2 linked regions of the Homo sapiens genome follow. The protein of the gene in region 1 purifies or fractionates together with the protein of each later gene. This does not show direct contact. Each region holds a gene or a part of one and is shown in the gene's direction. Other genes may lie near its edges.

The links.
Region 2: the proteins of PRKACB (region 1) and CDK5RAP2 purify together in Homo sapiens (affinity purification with mass spectrometry; 5 studies listed by BioGRID and IntAct, with this or other methods). This does not show direct contact.

What each region holds. Positions count from the first base shown.
Region 1 is NC_000001.11:84,147,154-84,150,805, forward strand, and holds part of PRKACB (cAMP-dependent protein kinase catalytic subunit beta), read left to right. Parts: intron 1-3,652. UniProt on the Homo sapiens protein: Mediates cAMP-dependent signaling triggered by receptor binding to GPCRs.
Region 2 is NC_000009.12:120,437,032-120,440,683, reverse strand, and holds part of CDK5RAP2 (CDK5 regulatory subunit-associated protein 2), read left to right. Parts: intron 1-711; coding exon 712-1,285; intron 1,286-3,156; coding exon 3,157-3,389; intron 3,390-3,652. UniProt on the Homo sapiens protein: Potential regulator of CDK5 activity via its interaction with CDK5R1. Negative regulator of centriole disengagement (licensing) which maintains centriole engagement and cohesion. Involved in regulation of mitotic spindle orientation.

The sequences.
Region 1 (3,652 bases):
TACTTTTTCTTTCCCTTTTCCTATGAATTGACAGGCTATTTCTCTTGTAAATACAAATCCATTTTAGTAAATCTTAGATTTAAATATATTAAACAAATGAGCAGTTTTGATTATGGATGTCCTCTAGCAAAATCATAAAGTGGTTACAGTAGACCACTTCAGTCAGTTTTACCTTTGCAAATTTTATACAATCTCTCAGACAGTTTACCTCCTATTTGTTAGCCCATTGAATCTGTATCATTTTAACTTCTCAGCTAAAAGACTTTCCACCTTTGTCTTTTTATCAGCTTTTTCCACTTGAAACTATTCCATAAGCTTCTTGATAATAGTCAATTTCTACTCATTTGGTAAAACTTTTTTGAGTATTTACTATATCATAGTAAGTAAGCAAGTTTCCAGGAAAAATAAGATCTAGTTCTTACCCCCAAAAAGAAGAGCAAACATAATATAATATTCAAGGCATAATGAAATAGTTGCTTTAAAATGTCTAAGCTTACTGTGGAAGCTAAGTGTAAGAAAAAAGTTGTTACTAAAGAGAAAATGGGGGACTTCAAAAATATTAAAGAATGAATAGAATTTTGAGACCTAGAGAAGAAGGTTATTTTAAGAAAATAACATACACAAGTATTTGAAAATATGAACATTTAGAACTTACTTAAAAGGTTTAGTAAGATACTGTCTAGAAAATTAGGTTCTGGATTTAAACTTTAAAAGTTTTCTATTAGACATCCAGAATTTTGTACTACGCTGTATTAGTGGGGAGCCAATGCAGTTTTTTAAAGTGGAAAATAATATAATGCAACCTTTGTTAAAAGAGCCTAAAGATTTTAACTAGCATAATACAGGATAAGTTAACTTACTTTACTACAGAGAAATGTGTATAGCTACTATACATCTTCCGTTTTTGCTGGGCATTTAATTAGAACTAACGCTTTTGACGTGACAGTCAGCATGGCAATGAATAGTCAGATAATGGATTCCTTTTACAACAGTGCTTGTTCAAGTTGCTGCTTCTGTCTGGAATTCTCTTTCTTCACTTCTACCAGTGGTGAGATTTGCCCATACTTTAGGCATCCTCTCAGGTATCATCTCTGTAACAAAACCACCAATGTATCCTATTCATCTATCCTTCATCCTTCTTAGAGTCTGTGCTCTTCCTTATGTTCTTATATCATCTTATACTTAACTTTTATTGTGGTTTATTTATAGTATTTATATGGTATAGTTTGTATACTATATATATTATAGTTTATAATATTTAAAATGCATTACTATTAATCCTTATGTATCTGTCTCTCATGTTTGATTTTGAACTCCTTGAAGGCAAATAACTTGTCAGTTTATTTCAGTATTACTAGCATAATTTTCAATAAATCTTGAGTTATTTGTTAAATTAACATTAAACATCACTGCAGTATTACACAAATGAGCTTCTTACTAATTTGTGCTATTGTGATCTTTGCAATTTATTTTAAAAGCCCATGGCCATTAACCAAAAGCAGTCAAATGCTGACCTGGCTCTAGTAAATACCAATTTTCAGTGTTACCTGTGTATTTTTATCATGATTTCCAATAAAAATTTAAGTAACAAGCAGACTTTATAGTAAAACTAAAATAGTTGGGATATTAAATGATGTTGAAATCAGGAAATCATTCCATGAGCCATTTAGCAATGCAAGTACTATATCAACTGTACTAACATAACGAGAAGCTTTTACTTGCTTGTGCTTTGCAAAAATAGCCATATGACAGAGTTAGAAGACAGCTTGCTACTCAAAGTGTGGTCCCTGTCCAGCATTATTAGCATCTCCTGGGAGCTTGTTAGGAGGAAGAATCCCAGGTCCCACCTAGACCTACTTAGTCAGAATCAGCATTTTAACAAGATTTCCCAGCTGATTTATATGCACATTAAGGTGTGAGAAGCACTTTTTCCCTAATAACATTTTAATATGATTTCCAAATGTATATCTTCACTGGAGAAAATTTTGAAACTACAGGAAAAAACAAAAAGGTAAAAAAAAGTATACATAATTCTGCCAAAAGGTAATGACTGTTAATTTTTGTATATATACTCTATTTTGTGTATAGACACACAAATTTCTACCAGCTCCAATTTTTTTTTTTTAAACAGAGTCTTACCGTGTCACCCAGGCTGGAGTGCAGTGGTGGGATTTCGACTCGCTGCAGCCTCTGCCTCCCAGGCTCAAGCGATCCTCCCATCTCAGTTTCCCAAGTAGCTGGGACTATAGGCATGTGCCACCATACCCGGCTAATTTTTTGTATTTTTGGTAGAGGTGGAGTTTCACCATGTTGCCCAGGTCGATCTTGAACTCCTGAACTCAAGTGATCTGCCTGCCTTGGCCTCCCAAAGTGCTGGGAATACAGGCCTGAGCCACTGCACCCAGCCCAGCTCCAGAATTTGGATCTTTCAAAACATAATGTTTAGTTAACATTTTTCTTTATAAAGAGTTGTTCTACAATACTATTTTGTATTAAATCATAAGGATATACTATAATTTATTTAACCAATCATTGGCCATCTAGGCTGTTTTTAATGTTTTGCTATTAAAAAATGCCATGATAAACATCTTTATAACTAAATATTTGTACATATTTAGGATTATTTTTATATTTTATAGGATTAATTTGAAGAAGTTATGACCATTTTAAGGCTTTTGCATTAAATTAATTGAATCCCAGATAAACATGCATATCTTTTTGGAGTTAATTATTATAATAATTATTTTTTCATAGATTATAGCACTTGAGAATGTGTGAAAATAATTATATAGCTACTATCCTTAATGATATTTTTAAAAACAAATTTAAGGCCAGGTGTGGTGGCTCACGCCTGTAATCCCAGCACTTTGGGAGGCTGAGGTGGGCAGATCCCTTGCAGTCAGGAGTTCAACAACAGCCTGGCCAACATGGTGAAACCCTGTCTCTACTAAAAATGCAAAAATTAGCCAGGCTCCATCTACAGGTGTGGTGGCGCACACCTGTAATCCCAGCTACTTGGGAGGCTGAGGCAGGAGAATCACTAGACCCCAGGAAGCAGAGGCTGCAGTGAGGTGAGATTGCACCACTGCAGTCCAGCCTGGGTGACAGAGTGAGACTCTATCTCAAAATAAATTAAAATAAAATAAAATAAAGAAAACACATTTAACATTGTAAAATTTATTCTCAAAACAGTATATTGATATTTTTAAAAATTAAAAATATAATGGCCCATTATACTTCCTTCTGTTACAACTACCAGGGTCATGGTAAGAACATTATATGTTTGTCCCCTCCAAATCTCATGTTGGAATGTGATCCCCAGTGTTGGAGGTGGGGCCTAATGGGAGGCGTTTGGGTCATGGGGGAGGATCTCTCATGAATGGCTTGGTGTCCTCCCAATGGGTAATGAGCTGGTTCTTGCTTTATTAGTTCATGCAATAACTGGTTGTTTTTTTAAAACAAACATGGCACTTCCCCCTCTCTCTTGCTCCCTCTCTTTGCCTGTGACATGCCTGCTCCCTCTTTGCCTTCTGCCATCATTGAAAGCTTCCTGAGGCCCTCATCAGAAGCAGATGTTGGCAGTATGCTTCTTCTACAGTCTGCAGAACCATGAGCCAAAATAAATCTCTTTATAAATTATTCTGCCTTAGGT
Region 2 (3,652 bases), on another chromosome or scaffold:
GGAGAGCTACATTCAGATGACGAATTGCTATGTGAATCAATAAATAAGCCACTTAAAATTTTTACTTTAGCACCCAGCACATAGTATATTTGTCTTGAGTAATATGCATAAGGTGCTACAGAACCACAGCGAGTTGTGACTTTTGCATAGTTTGGCAGTGGGCTTGCAGAGGAAGGAAAATTAGATCTGGGTATGGAAAGAGTTCATTAGGTAGGAGTAGAATAGAGGGCTGAAGGTGTTCCAGGCAGAGGGCACGGCCCATGCAAAAGCATGGAGGCATGACACAGCACGCAATGTGCAGGGAATCATGGTTAATTTTGTAGGAAATCTCCAGAGTGGTGCCAGAGATATTCCTGGAAAGGTTGCCTGGAACTAGATCATGGAAGGTCTCATGTAGATACTGGGAATGTCGATGAATTTTAGGGGGTGTGTGTGTGGGTTTATCATGGTTAAAATTACTTTTTAGAACAGTCACTCTGAGGAAGAGGACAACTGAGGGGTAAAGAGGGAAAGACTAGGGCTTTTTGAGGGAGGCTTGTTAGGAAAGACTGGAGGCTTTTTGAGGGAAGTGTGTTAGGAAATACTAGGGCCTTTTTGAGGGAGGCTTGTTAGGTCACTGCAGTGGTCTTGGCTTGGCTAGGGCTGTGAGGAAGGAGAGAGGGTTTGGATTTTAGTAAAAGAGATACTGACATAAGTGTATTTGATTTTCAGACTCTGAGATTTGCCCACCTGATGACCTTGCCAGCTTGCCATCATGCAAAGAAAATCCTGAAGATGTTCTGAGCCCAACTTCAGTAGCTACTTACCTGAGTTCCAAGAGTCAGCCTTCTGCTAAAGTCAGTGTGATGGGGACTGATCAGTCAGAGAGCATTAATACCTCAAATGAGACAGAATACTTAAAACAGAAAATCCATGACTTGGAAACTGAGCTGGAAGGCTACCAGAATTTCATATTTCAGCTTCAAAAGCACTCCCAGTGCAGTGAGGCCATAATTACAGTTTTGTGTGGGACAGAAGGGGCCCAGGATGGCTTGAGCAAGCCCAAGAATGGTTCTGATGGGGAAGAAATGACCTTTTCAAGTTTGCACCAAGTGCGATACGTGAAACACGTGAAAATCCTCGGTCCGCTGGCCCCAGAGATGATTGACAGCAGGGTGCTGGAGAACCTCAAACAGCAGCTGGAGGAACAGGAATACAAGCTGCAGAAGGAGCAGAATTTGAACATGCAACTTTTCAGTGAGATCCATAATCTGCAGAATAAGTTCAGAGATCTCTCACCTCCCAGGTACGTTCCACCTCTGCCGTCTCCCCGTTTAAGCCTGTAGTCCCCCAGTATTGCCACTAGGTGGGAGCCCATGAGCTAAAAGAGAACACTACTCTGTGATGGGTAGAGTGTGTTCTGGGGAAGGCTTGATGGTGGGGTTCAGGCAGCCAGGTCCTGTGGAGAAGGGAGAGGTGAGGCCACAAAGAAGAGGAACAGCGACCACGCACTTGAACGTCAGTTACGAGTCTTGGGTCCTCTGGAAATCTGCAGGGCAGATTTCGCCCTCCTCAAGTTGGGGGCTCAGGGTAAAGGTTTCATACCAGTCACTTGGTGAGTGATAGTGCCTTTGCTGAACTGCAGTGTGTACTCCTGGACTCTGTTACTGGCTTTTGCTGTGCTGTGAAACTAAAACTGATGTCTAGGCAAGGTAGGAGGAATATAAATATTTTCCATATCTTTACCCTTTAAGGTCATCTTAGAGAAATAAGCTTGTGTTGAAAGAGAAGAATTCTTAGGTCATGAAGATAATGCTTTATGGGCATAGATATATACGGTTTTGCTTCATGAGATATGGCAAAAATGGGATCATTAGTAAAGTTGACCTTCATTTGTCACTAATTTGAGTCAAACACATTGTTCTGAATTGTCAGGAGCCAGGATGAATTTTTCAAGACTTCCCAAGCAGTGAGATTGAAGGAAGCTTGTAATTATTGAAAGGCTGTTGTCTCAGGCCCCTGGTTAGGCACTTTTCTTATCTAATCCTCAAAATCACCTGAGAAGGAGGTATTCTTAAACTAGTTATTACAGGTAGGGAAACTGAGCCTCAAAGTAGCTGCAGTGACTTGGCAGAGAACATTCACAGAGCTGGTCAGAGCCATTGCCAGGGTTCAAGCCCACATCATCCCACTCCAGTACCCATGTTTACTCATGTTACTCATGAGTTACCCATGTTTACCCATGTTACTCCAGTACTCACATGATACTGGCCCCCACCTTTAATGCTGGTATCATGTAATCTGCATGTGCACACTCTATGTTGAAGGTGACTGCCAGCCCATGTAGTGTTGTCATTTCCAGGAAGGAGAAAATTATGTTGAACTGAAGTGTCAACATCTTTGCCAAGCTACTCTCTGGAGCAAGGTTATTGTGGCCAGTTTACATGAGTCACATTTCCCTTAACCTGTTTACTTCTCAGTGTCTTTCTCTTATGGGCTCACGTAGGAAAAGGTGGCACATGACGGTAAAAAGGTAATATTGCATAATGATCTTCAAAGTGAGAATTGTGTTTGAATCCAAAATCTTTACCACTTAATTAGCTTTGCAGTCAGTTTATTCTTCTGTAAAAGGGGACATTTATACATTTGTTGGAAGACTGAGAGGATCAGATAACATATAAAGCACTGAATTCAGTTACTGACAGGTCCTAGACCCTCAGTAAATGGTAGTTAGCATCATGATTATTCAGTGACGTTTTGTTCGGGAGGAGAGAGTCCTGTCTTTTTTTCTTTGTGGTACACTTTCTTTATCACACTTCATGAGAATTTTTGGTAGATCCTCTGACCCTTGGGGCACTTGTTTCTACAATTCAGAATAGTATTTTTGAAGAGTGTATGGAAACTTATTGTTTGCCTGAGTTCTTGCCAATCTGTACTTTAATTGGGGGCTTTATAAGGTTAAAAATGTTGCAGAAGAATCTTTGTTCCAGCCTTTGTTGGCTGTGTGAAATCAAAGAAGAGCTGACCTTGTACAGTTTCAATTTTTCTAAAAGTATATATACTTGTACAGCTGCAGGCTTTTAAAAATTGTACTCTGTCATTTTTCCAATTAGTGTTAAGGTCACAAAAATTCAATTCTAAAATGGTCCAAGTATTTTCTTTCCCCTCTTTTATCAGATACGATTCATTAGTTCAGTCCCAAGCCAGGGAGCTCTCCCTTCAACGGCAGCAGATTAAGGATGGCCATGGCATCTGTGTCATCTCCCGTCAACACATGAACACCATGATTAAGGCATTTGAGGAGTTGCTGCAGGCCAGTGATGTGGATTACTGTGTGGCCGAGGGTTTCCAGGAACAGCTGAATCAATGTGCTGAGCTGCTGGAGAAATTGGAAAAGCTATTTCTCAACGGTAGGTAGGGTGAGGTACGCGAGTCTTAAGACATCAGTAATTGACCCAGGACTTCTTGGAGGGGCACAGGAGGAGCTAACTCCTTGGCCTTAGTTATCTTTCACCCCTCTGCCTTGATGAGGTGACAGCAGAACCACACTGGCTGCTGCTTCCTCCCAGTGACCACTTCCACATGGCTTGTGGTCGGCACTGTTACAAACCAGGAGTCCAGTTTAGACGCCTCAGGGGCCGGGCTGGTGAGGTACATGAGTGAAGCCAGCCAG